Linked DNA regions of Homo sapiens. The protein of the gene in region 1 purifies or fractionates together with the protein of each later gene. This does not show direct contact. Each region holds a gene or a part of one and is shown in the gene's direction. Other genes may lie near its edges. The genes, in order: JADE2, CCP110 and SNAP29.

Evidence for each region.
Region 2: the proteins of JADE2 (region 1) and CCP110 purify together in Homo sapiens (affinity purification with mass spectrometry, with the first as the bait; one large-scale study listed by BioGRID). This does not show direct contact.
Region 3: the proteins of JADE2 (region 1) and SNAP29 purify together in Homo sapiens (affinity purification with mass spectrometry, with the first as the bait; one large-scale study listed by BioGRID). This does not show direct contact.

What each region holds. Positions count from the first base shown.
Region 1 is NC_000005.10:134,528,591-134,532,244, forward strand, and holds part of JADE2 (E3 ubiquitin-protein ligase Jade-2), read left to right. Parts: intron 1-3,293; exon of another isoform or gene 3,294-3,654. UniProt on the Homo sapiens protein: Scaffold subunit of some HBO1 complexes, which have a histone H4 acetyltransferase activity. Acts as an E3 ubiquitin-protein ligase mediating the ubiquitination and subsequent proteasomal degradation of target protein histone demethylase KDM1A.
Region 2 is NC_000016.10:19,547,811-19,550,947, forward strand, and holds part of CCP110 (centriolar coiled-coil protein of 110 kDa), read left to right. Parts: intron 1-144; coding exon 145-204; intron 205-704; coding exon of another isoform or gene 705-790; intron 791-3,137.
Region 3 is NC_000022.11:20,869,007-20,872,660, forward strand, and holds part of SNAP29 (synaptosomal-associated protein 29), read left to right. Parts: intron 1-1,330; coding exon 1,331-1,527; intron 1,528-3,654. UniProt on the Homo sapiens protein: SNAREs, soluble N-ethylmaleimide-sensitive factor-attachment protein receptors, are essential proteins for fusion of cellular membranes.

The sequences.
Region 1 (3,654 bases):
AGCAAGTTTGCATGGTAGAGGAAGGGATGTTTGTTTGATCTGGAGCCCTCTAGGTTGCCCCAAGTGCTGTTGGCTGTTGTTTTGAGTGGAAAAGCATTTGGTTCTGCAGCAAATGCCTCACAGAGGGAAGTCCTCGCCCCAGGCAGCAGGACTTGCAGTGAATATTGGTTTTGAAATTGTTTGGCCAAGGGTCCCCCCATCACTTTTGGAGATGAAGTGTTTAAGGATAGAGTTGTTTGGGCTCAGGATGCAGCAAATGTTTCCAGAATGTTTTCCCGTCCAAAATGCTTTTCCTTTCCCTAAATTGCCTGGCTAAAGGGCCAGTAACAGTGGTCCAAGAGGTTGTCAGAAATCTCCACTTAGCTTTCATGGACTGGTGAGGTGGGACTGCCAGTCCCCAGGTCCTAGATGCACCACGGAGTATTGACACTGTATAGGCCCTGGACACTGACCCCCACATCCTTGAGGTTGGGAGGCAGGGTGTTCTGGCTCTAACCTAGTGTTCCTCTTAACAGGAAGGCAGTTGTCTTATGCTCATGACACAGGTAAGAGGCTTCTAGTCCAAATTCTTCATGGCACATGCAGCAGGCTTTTTGGGACCTCACAGTTCTCCCTTTAGGTTCTCTGATGGGGAGAACAGGTCAGAGTTGGGGAGCAGGATACCCCTGGCTTGCCCTGTCCTCCAGATAGGACCCTTACCATGTGGCTCAAAAGCTTACAATTGTAGGTCTGCTCAAAGCTCCTTTCAGACAGCCCATAGGAATCTAGAATACCCATACCCTGGAACTTGTAGGCCTGTACACTTCAGCCCACTGGAGATGGGGTACACCTTCTGGAGTCAGACAGCCTAGGTTTGAATCCTGGCTGTGCAGTTACCAACTGTCATAATGGCTCTATACCTCAGTTCCTTCTGTTACAAGGAGCACTTTCTGCAAATGGGATTAATAACAGTACCTATCTCATAGTGGATGTATAGAATAAGTGATTACCTAAAAAAGACTAAGCCCAAAGCAGGCATGTGATAAGCACGTGATTAGTATTAGTCATCCTTATTATACCTGGGGAGGGTCCCCGATGCAGCTTGGACCTTTGATCTCTCACCTTTAGGCTAGGCCAGAGAGCCAGCTCGCTTCTCTGCAGAAGGGATCAGAAGGATCCTGCAGGTGCCAATAGGCAGCCGATATGGGAGCGAGTAGACGGAGCTCTGCCCTCTCTGGGGCAAAGAGTAGGGTGAGAAGGTTCTGAAGAACAAAGTAGACAGAGCCTTTTCATTCTCCCACCATCCCCTTGGTACGTCCCCAGAACTGGTCTGGAGGGTGGGTGTGGCAGCGTCTTCAAGGGGAGCTGAGTCCCCTCTGGGACACTTGAAGTTGCAGACAGGCAATGGCTGGTGTTGCAGGAGGGTTCAGGCTCCTCTAGACTTGGAGAAGCAGGTCCAGGAAGCCGACTGGAGGATCCCAGGCAGCAGCCCTCTACTCTGTATACAAAATCATTTTTGTAACTGCAATTACTGTCCCTGAGAAGGCATTAAAGTTAATGAGAGATAGGAAAGAGTGGGGCTGTGACCCCGGTTTAAAGCGGTTTAAGAGTGTGCAGCTCTTGTTTTCTGAATGTCTGGCCTTCCCAACACAAGGAGGCTCTGAGGACAGGTTTTCCAGCCGAAATATCATTAAATTGTATTAGCATCTTATTACACACACGCCTTAGCGGTCTGCCTCAGACAGGGAGAGTTTTTGTTTCTCTTTGAAAGATTGTGTCTGGAATGGTAAATTGCCTGCTTGAAAGCCCTTTTTTCCCCTTTTTTTAAAGAAGAGGACGAAATCCTGCTGTGTGGTGGCAGGCAGGCCAGGCCTAGTGGCCCCTGGAGAGGAGAGGCTGGAGGCCAGGTTGGGGTGTTTTAACTGCCCAGGGAGTGGCTGCAGTGGCAGGCCTGAAAGGCCCACTGTTCCCAGGGTCAGCTGGAAGGGCGTTAATGGAGGCCCAGGGTGTTTATTTGAGTTTATTTGCAGAGAGGTCTTTAAAGGGGGCTGGCATTGGGCATTGGTGTTTTAAGTCCAGACCTGAGGCCCTCACTAAGGCCAACCACTAGTGCTGCCAAGAAAACATCTGCCACCAAATTGCTGCCCTATTACTGAGTTGACATTGATCATTAGCCAGGAGCCCAACCAAATAAAGCCTCCTGGAAAATGTGTGAGGTTAAGACGGGGAAGGCAGGCTGTGAAAACAAGGGCGAAATCTTGGGCCAGGGTGTTTGTTCCTGCAAGCCACAGGCAGGCCAGCTGGACTGTGTGGTCCCGACACTTCTTGGGGGAGGGAGCGAGAGCACACTCAGCACTCCCTAGTATGTCACTGGGGTTCTGGCTGGAGTCTAAATGGAATGCTCCTTACTCTTCATGGAATATACATTCCCAAGGAGAACGACATGCAACAAGTAGCTCAACAAGCACAGCTGGGATGGGTATTCCGTGGACACTGGGTGGTGAATTTCTTCAGATAGTGTGATGAGCATAGACTGACATGGGCCACACTGAAGCTTAAACCTGAAGGTTGAAAAGTCAGACATGCATAGACCACATAGAAGAATATTCCAAACAGAGTGGAGTACAGCGTGTGCACAGGGCTCGAAGTATGGAATATTTGGCTTGTTCAAAGGAATGAAAGGAGCCCAGCATGGCTAGAAGGTGGTGAGGAAGGGGATAGTGGTCAGTATGAAGCTGTCCAGGTGGCAGGGGCCAGATTGTGTAGGGTCTTGTGGTCAGGAGCTTAGGCTTTGTCTTTTGATCTATGAAGCCTTTGAAAGATTTTCTTAGGGGCATGATATGATCTGATTTATGCCTTTTAAAATTTTTATTTTGTTCTAATTTTTTTTAGAGATGGGGTCTTGCTGTGTTGCCCGGGCTTGCCTTGAACTCCTGGGCCCAAGTGATCCTCCTGCCTCTACCTCCCAAGTAGCTGGAACTACAGGTGCATATCACCATGTCCAGCTTCTGATTTATACCTTTTTTTTTTTGAGACAGAGTCCCACTCTGTTGTCCAGGCTGGAGGGCAATGGCACAATCTCGGCTCACTGCAACCTCTGTCTCCCAGGTTCAAGCAATTCTCTTGCCTCAGCCTCCAGAGTAGCTGAGATTACAGGCTTCCGCCACTAAGCCTGGCTAATTTTTGTATTTTTAGTAGAGACGGGGTTTCACCACATTAGCCAGGCTGGTCTCGAATTCCTGACCTCTCAAGTGATCCACCCACTTTGGTCTCCCAAAGTGCTGGGAATATAAGGATGAGCCACCGTGCCTGGCTTTTTTTTTTTTTTTTTTTTTTTTTTTTTTGAGACAGGGTGTCACTCTGTCACCCAGGCTGGAGTGCAGTAGCATAATCACAGCTCACTGCAACCTCAACCTCCTGGCCTCCCACTTCAGCCCCTTCAGCAGCTGGGACCACAGGCACACGCCACCATGCCCAGCTAACTTTTGTATTTTTCATAGAGTCGGGGATTTGCCATGTTGCCCAGACTGATCTTGAACTCCTAAGCTCAAGTGAGCCACCTGCTTTGGCCTCCATAAGTGCTGGGATTACAGGTGTGAGTCACCGCACCCCGACTGATTTATGCTTTTTAAACATCACTCTGGCAGCTGTGTGGAGCCTGGACATGGGTGAATT
Region 2 (3,137 bases), on another chromosome or scaffold:
TGCTCTGATTTGTGGTAATATATAGGCCATATTATTGCATAGTTGACCTTTACCTTACAGTCATCATCTTTCATCCGTTGAAAGAAAATGGGAAAAAATGGAATTTAACCTATTAAATTAATTTTTCATTTAATTTGTCAACAGAGTCCTTCAGCCAAACCAAGGACAGAATGCACCTGTTCATAGGCTACTTAGTAGACAAGGGTAAGAATGCCACACACGGGTATTGAAAACTACGGAAACCAAGATTAGATTTGAGAGGGAAAAATAAATCTAGTGTTCTTTATGTAAAGGATAATGGTTTTTCAATGGGATTTTTTTTCTTTATAGCATTGGGAAAGATATTTTAAAGTTTTGTCTTCAAATGTAACCCTCTTGGTGTACTGTTGTGTATTCTAATTACTGTCTTAAGTTGGGATGTTTTTACTTTTCATTTCATACCATTTTACTCATAAAGTATTTTAAATATCCATATAGTAAATTCAGCATCACCGAAGTGATTCTCCAACAGAGTATGACTCGTGCTTATAGTCTCCTGCTGAAGCCAGAGTTTAGCTTTCCTTACTGTGCGCATGCATGAGACTTCAGTTCTTTTCAAGCTTATTTGTGCTTTGGACAGTTGATGCAATGTGATTGCTTTCTTTGAATTTTGAACATTTAGACCTTAATGCCAGTGACTTATTAATTTTTTTATATTCAATTAGAACCCCTAAGACATCAGTGAAGGGGGTTGTGCAAAATAGACAGAAGCCTTCACAGAGCAGAGTGCCTAACAGAGTGCCTGTTTCAGGTTTGTAGAAAATAAATTCCTGAAGCCCATTCAATAGAAGGAAGTGCACAAGCTGCCCCATAACTCAGGCCATAGAAGTGGAATAGATTGTCTTTCCTTGCCACCATAATTTTGGCATATTCACAGTCATCTTATTAGTGTTCTTTGGTCTTAGCATTGTATGGCAGTCAGGAAGTCTTAGTAAAAGTGTGATTCCAGTCTTCATTTCTATAATATTTCTGTGGAAAGCACCTTGTATTTTTCATTCTGAAAAAATTGTAGAATTTGCCATGCTTAATTCAGAAAACCTTTTTATTTAATGAATAAAAGATAACGATCATCTCTGGTGCTAAGTCTGTGCATTGTCTGTTCAGCTTGGGGAAGTGTATCTGCACATAAGGGGATAAACTTTCTCCCTCAGACTATAAGATCACATGTGAATATGCCAGTGGGAGGAGGGCTTCATATTTTGCTCAGTCCAAAGCTTGAGCTAAATCTCTCCTTATGTTCATTATTTGAGGATTAAGAGCTAAACTAAAAACTGTATTTTAAAATTCTGTTTATGGTGGCAAGAAGACAAACTCATTCTTGAGCAAATTCAAAGCTCTTAACCAAATGCTTTAATATTTTTTAGGTATCTTTGTTAAGACACTTTGATTAAGCTCACTTAAAAATTATGTGATCCATTTAAAAATACTTTCCAAATGTTGTGCTTTAACTATACTGCTTTCTAGACATTTACAACAAACCTAAATTAATCACCAGGCATTGAAGATTAAACCTTTAATCAATTTTAATCTTTCCATTAATATACAATTAGGCAAATTTTAGAGCTTTATTACTAAGTGATTTCCTTCAAATTAGGAGGGAACAAGCTATTGGTCGTAACTTTGAAATGATGGCTGACCTTTTGTATGTATGTAGTGAAGGTAATTCATAGTGTCACACATATATAGGATAATTTAAAAGATCATCTTTGGAAATCATTGTGAGTGACAGTTAATGGAATTGTCTTAAAGGATTACATAGCTGAAGATACTGTTTACTCCAGAGGCAGTCAGAATAAGCTAGTTTGAAAGATAACCATTTGAAAGGACTCAGACCAAACACCAAACCTGTGGAATTTTAAGACATTTTCTGTTTTTCTCATGTTAGTATTCTATATTGCACTGAAACTTAGCAAGTTGGAAAATCATTGAGGAATTAGTATTGTTTTGCCTGATACCAATTTGCCACAGTGACTACTCTCCATGTTCTTTTCTCATGCATTTCATCTCCACTATTTGTCACTTGTGAACTTATAAGCAAAATAGCAAGTACTGTTTTTATTCAGCAATACTCAACAGTATAAAGGATGTATAGTCAGTCACTGAAGTTAGTAACATACAATGAAGTTCATTATTTTGAACTATTGAGGTTAAATTGCATTGCAACATACTTATTAATACAAATGAACTTAACCCTTGAATTAATATGTATCTAAACAAGTACAAAAGTCTGTTGCTGTTGTTTTCTAAAGATTTACTTATACATGAGTGCATATTTAGACAATTGAAAGAAACTAAATAATTGTGTTCTTTTTTTTTTTTTGAGACAGAGTCTTGTTCTGTTGCCCAGGCTGGAGTGCATTGGTGTGATCTTGGCTCACTGCAATCTCCACCTCCTGGGTTCAAGCCATTCTTCTGCCTGAGCCTCCCAAGTAGCTGGAATTACAGGCGCGTGCCACCATGCCCAGCTAATTTATTGTATTTTTAGTAGAGATGGGGTTTTACCATATTGGCCAGGCTAGTCTCGAACGCCTGACCTCAGGTGATCCGCCCACCTCGGCTTCCCAGAGCTCTGGGATTACAGGTGTAAGCCACCGCGTCCAGCCAGAATTGTATTCTTTTATATAAACTGAGAGTTTGGGATATTGGCTGGTTAAAATGCTAACTATGAATCTGAACACAGGAACTCACTGTCGCTCTTGAAAAGATTACTCTTTCCTGCTTAGAGTTTTAATGGTCTGAATTATGTTTTAAACAAATTTGAAATTATGTTCTGATTTGCTCTAAATGGAGGCAAATCCTTTGTTAAGCAATTTATAGAAAACTAACTTTTCTTATGATAGAATATCATACTCTTAGACTGAAGTAGAATTCTAAAATGTTAAAGTATGCTGCAAAGCATTTAGTTATTTATAGTTTTACAAACCTAAATTGCAATCTCTGATGTTATCGTAAGTGATCTTTGACTTACGGTTTTAAAACACATTTCTTCATTTGATGTTTTGTGCTTGACTAGAGTTTATATAGTGAAATTCAGAAACCACTAATCAAAGCAGAGTAGGAGGTGGTCATGCAAAATGGTTAAGTAAAATAACACATCA
Region 3 (3,654 bases), on another chromosome or scaffold:
TGGCTCATGCCTGTAATCCCAGCACTTTGGGAGGCCGAGGCGGGTGGTTCGAGACCAGCCGGGCCAACATGGTGAAACCCCGTCTCTACCAAAAATACAAAAAACTAGCCAGGCATGGTGGCAGGCGCCTGGAATCCCAGCTACTCAGGAGACTGAGGCAGGAGAATCGCTTGAACACAGGAGGCAGAAGTTGCAGTGAGCTAATATCACGCCACTGCACTCCAGCCTGGGTGACAGAGCAAGACTCCATCTCAAAACAGAAAAGGAGGTGGAGAAGAGGGGTAGTGGTTGGAAGAAGGAATTCTCCTTTAGGGAAGATGTCTGGGAAGGCCTCTCTGAGAGAGTGGCCTTTGAAAGGAGACCCTAATTGGATGAGGGATGAGAGGCTGAGCCATGTAAGTATCTGGATGGAAAACATTACAGGCGGAGACAGTGGTGTGTGCAAAGGCCCTGGGACAGGGTCACCCGTGTTAACAGGTTTTAAAGCTGGAATTGTGGATGGGCTAGAGTCAGACACTAATAGGGCCCAGAGGGGACACTGGTCCTTGAAATAGAATTTGAGGATTTGACCATGGCCAGGAGGCTCAGGTGGCCCAGTGGGAACTCCTTAAATGGGAACTTCCTAAAGGAAGAATATAAGAACCAAAGTCCAGGGGGCAGTGCCAGGCCCAACCTGTGAGGGTTCCCAGAGTTGGAGGGCTAGAGAGAATCTGCTTCCAGTTCAGGCCATAGACTCTGAACCTCACAGGCACATTGCCATCCATCTCCCCTCACCCCCAACCGAGACGGAGTCTTGCTCTGTCGCCCAGGCTGGAGTACATTGGCACCATCTTGGCTCACTGCAACCTCTGCCTTCAGGGTTGAAGCAATTCTCCTGCCTCAGCCCCCCGAGTAGCTGGGATTACAGGTGCCCGCCACAACACCTGGCTACTTTTTGTATTTTTAGTAGAGAGGGGGTTTCACCATGTTGGCCAGGCTGGTCTTGAACTCCTGACCTCATGATCTGCCCGCCTCAGCCTCCCAAAATGCTGGGATTACGGGTGTGAATCACTGCGCCACCCTCTGCCATCCATCTTAACATGGCGCCATGAGCCAGCCTCTCAGGAAAAGGGTCTCATGAACAAATGAGGAAAGCAAGTAGAGGTAGGGCAGGGAGGGAGAGGCAAAGGAATGTGTTGTTGGAAAGGGTAGTGTGCCCCTCACAGATGACAGTACCCGTCTCCAGATGTGCCCACTGAGAGTTTATGAAGGGGCTGCTCCATGTGGTCCTTGACTGCCCTGGGGGAGAGTCACAGAAAGCTATAATGCCACTGCCTCTCGGTTTCCCCAGGAGCTCGCCCGTCAGCGAGGAGTCCTGGAGCGCACAGAGAAGATGGTGGACAAGATGGACCAAGATTTGAAGATCAGCCAGAAACACATCAATAGCATTAAGAGCGTGTTTGGGGGGCTGGTCAATTACTTCAAATCCAAACCAGTAGAGACCCCACCTGAACAGAATGGCACCCTCACCTCCCAGCCCAACAACAGGTGAGTGCATCTTCTACCATCTGGGTATAAAGGAGCAGAAGTGGGGATTAGTGCAAATGACCAAGACTTTCAGTCCACGTCAGTGCCATGAAGGGATCCAACAACCCTTTAAGTTACTCATCAGGGGATATTTGTCCTCAAACATTGTGAAACCAGGAACTGTTCTTCCCTGATCCCATGTTCACTTGATTGACATCTAGTCTGTCAATAGCTTCTCCAATAATTGTGACCCCACTACTTTGAAAGAGAGGGTGTTCACCTCAGCGTAATCTGTACAAATGTGACTCACTTCACATAATTTTTGCTTTAAAAAATCTTTAGGGCTGGGTGCAGTGGCTCACACCTGTAATCCCGACACTTCAGGATGCCAAGGTGGGTAGATTGCTTAAGCCCAGGAGCTCGAGACCAGCCTGGGCAACATAGTGGGAACCCAGTCTTTACAAAAATTACCCAGGCATTGTGGTGCACACCTGTAGTCCCAGCTCCTCAGGAGGCTGAGGTAAGAGGATCTCATGAGGCCTGGAGATCAAGGCTGCAGTGAGCTGTAATGGTGCACTCCAACCTGGGCTACAGAGGGAGGCCCTGTCTCAAGAAAAAAAAAAAAAAAAGTCTTTATGTCTAAATTTGTCATATCTAATCCAATTCGCCCATTGATTTTTATTTGAAAATTATAAGGCTGGGCTCAGTGGCTTATCTGTAAAATCCCATGCTTTCAGAGGCTAAGGTAGGAGGATTGTTTGAGACCAGCCTAGACAACATAGCAAAGACCCGTCTCTATAAAAACTAAAAAAAAAAAAAAATTAGCCAGACATGATGGCACGTGCCTATATTCCTAGCTACAGGGGAGACTGAGGTGGAAGGATTGCTTTAGCCCAGGTGTTAGAGACTAGAGTTAAGCTATGATGGTGCCACTGCACTACAGCATCAGTGACAGAGTCTCCCTGTCTCTAAAAAAAAAAAAAAAAAAAAAAAGATTTAAAGCTAAATAATTAAAATCAAAAAAATAAAGTTAGAAGTTGCTTTCCTCAGGTTTTGGCTCGAAATATAAAATCATACATGAGACTGGGGGCCAGGCACGGTGGCTCACGCCTATAATCCTAGCACTTGGGGAGGCCGAGGCGGGTGGATCACCAAGTCAGGAAATCAAGACCATCCTGGCTAACATGGTGAAACCCTGTCTCTATTAAAAATACAAAAAATTAGCTGGGCGTGATGGCGGGCGCCCGTAGTCCCAGCTACTCGGGAGGCTGAGGCAGGAGAATGGTGTGAACCCGGGAGGTGGAGCTTGCAGTGAGCTGAGATCATGCCACTGCACTGCAGCCTGGGCGACAGAGCAAGACTCCGTCTCAAAAAAAAAAAAATTCATGAGATTTTGGTAGACTTCAGTGTTACATGTTCAAGGATAAAGGAATGGAGTTTCTGCTGAAGTAGATTACTATTGTTTGTATTTCAGATCACTGTGTCTGTTTTTATTACAAAAACAACATGGCCACATTACAGACAATCTATACTTTACCTACCGCAACACAAAAACAGAAAATTTCATTTTCCCCTTATTCAGTATTTTCATAGTTGTAACCATAGTATTCTTTTGGTTTGATAGCCTTTTTCTTCCATTTAACCCAGAAAAACTGCTTGATATTATGTGATAACTCAGGTTCCATAACCATCTCTCTCTCTCTCTTTTATTTATTTATTTTTTATTTTATTTATTTATTTTTTTTGAGATGGAGTTTCACCCTTGTTGCCCAGGCTGGAGTGCAAAGACGTGATCTCAGCTCACTGCAACCTCTGCCTTCCAGGTTAAAGCGATTCTCCTGCCTCAGCCTCCCAAGTAGCTGGGATCACAGGTGCCCACACCATGCCTGGCTAATTCTTTTTTTTTGAGACGGAGTCTCACTCTGTCACCCAGGCTGGAGTGCAGTGGTGCGATCTCGGCTCACTGCAAGCTCCGCCTCCCGGGTTCATGCCGTTCTCCTGCCTCAGCCTCCCGAGTAGCTGGGACTACAGGCGCCTGCCACCATGCCTGGCTAATTTTTTGTATTTTTAGTAGAGACGGGGTTTCACCGTGTTAGCCAGGATGGTCTCGACCTCCTGACTTCGTGATCCATCCGCCTCCGCCTTCCA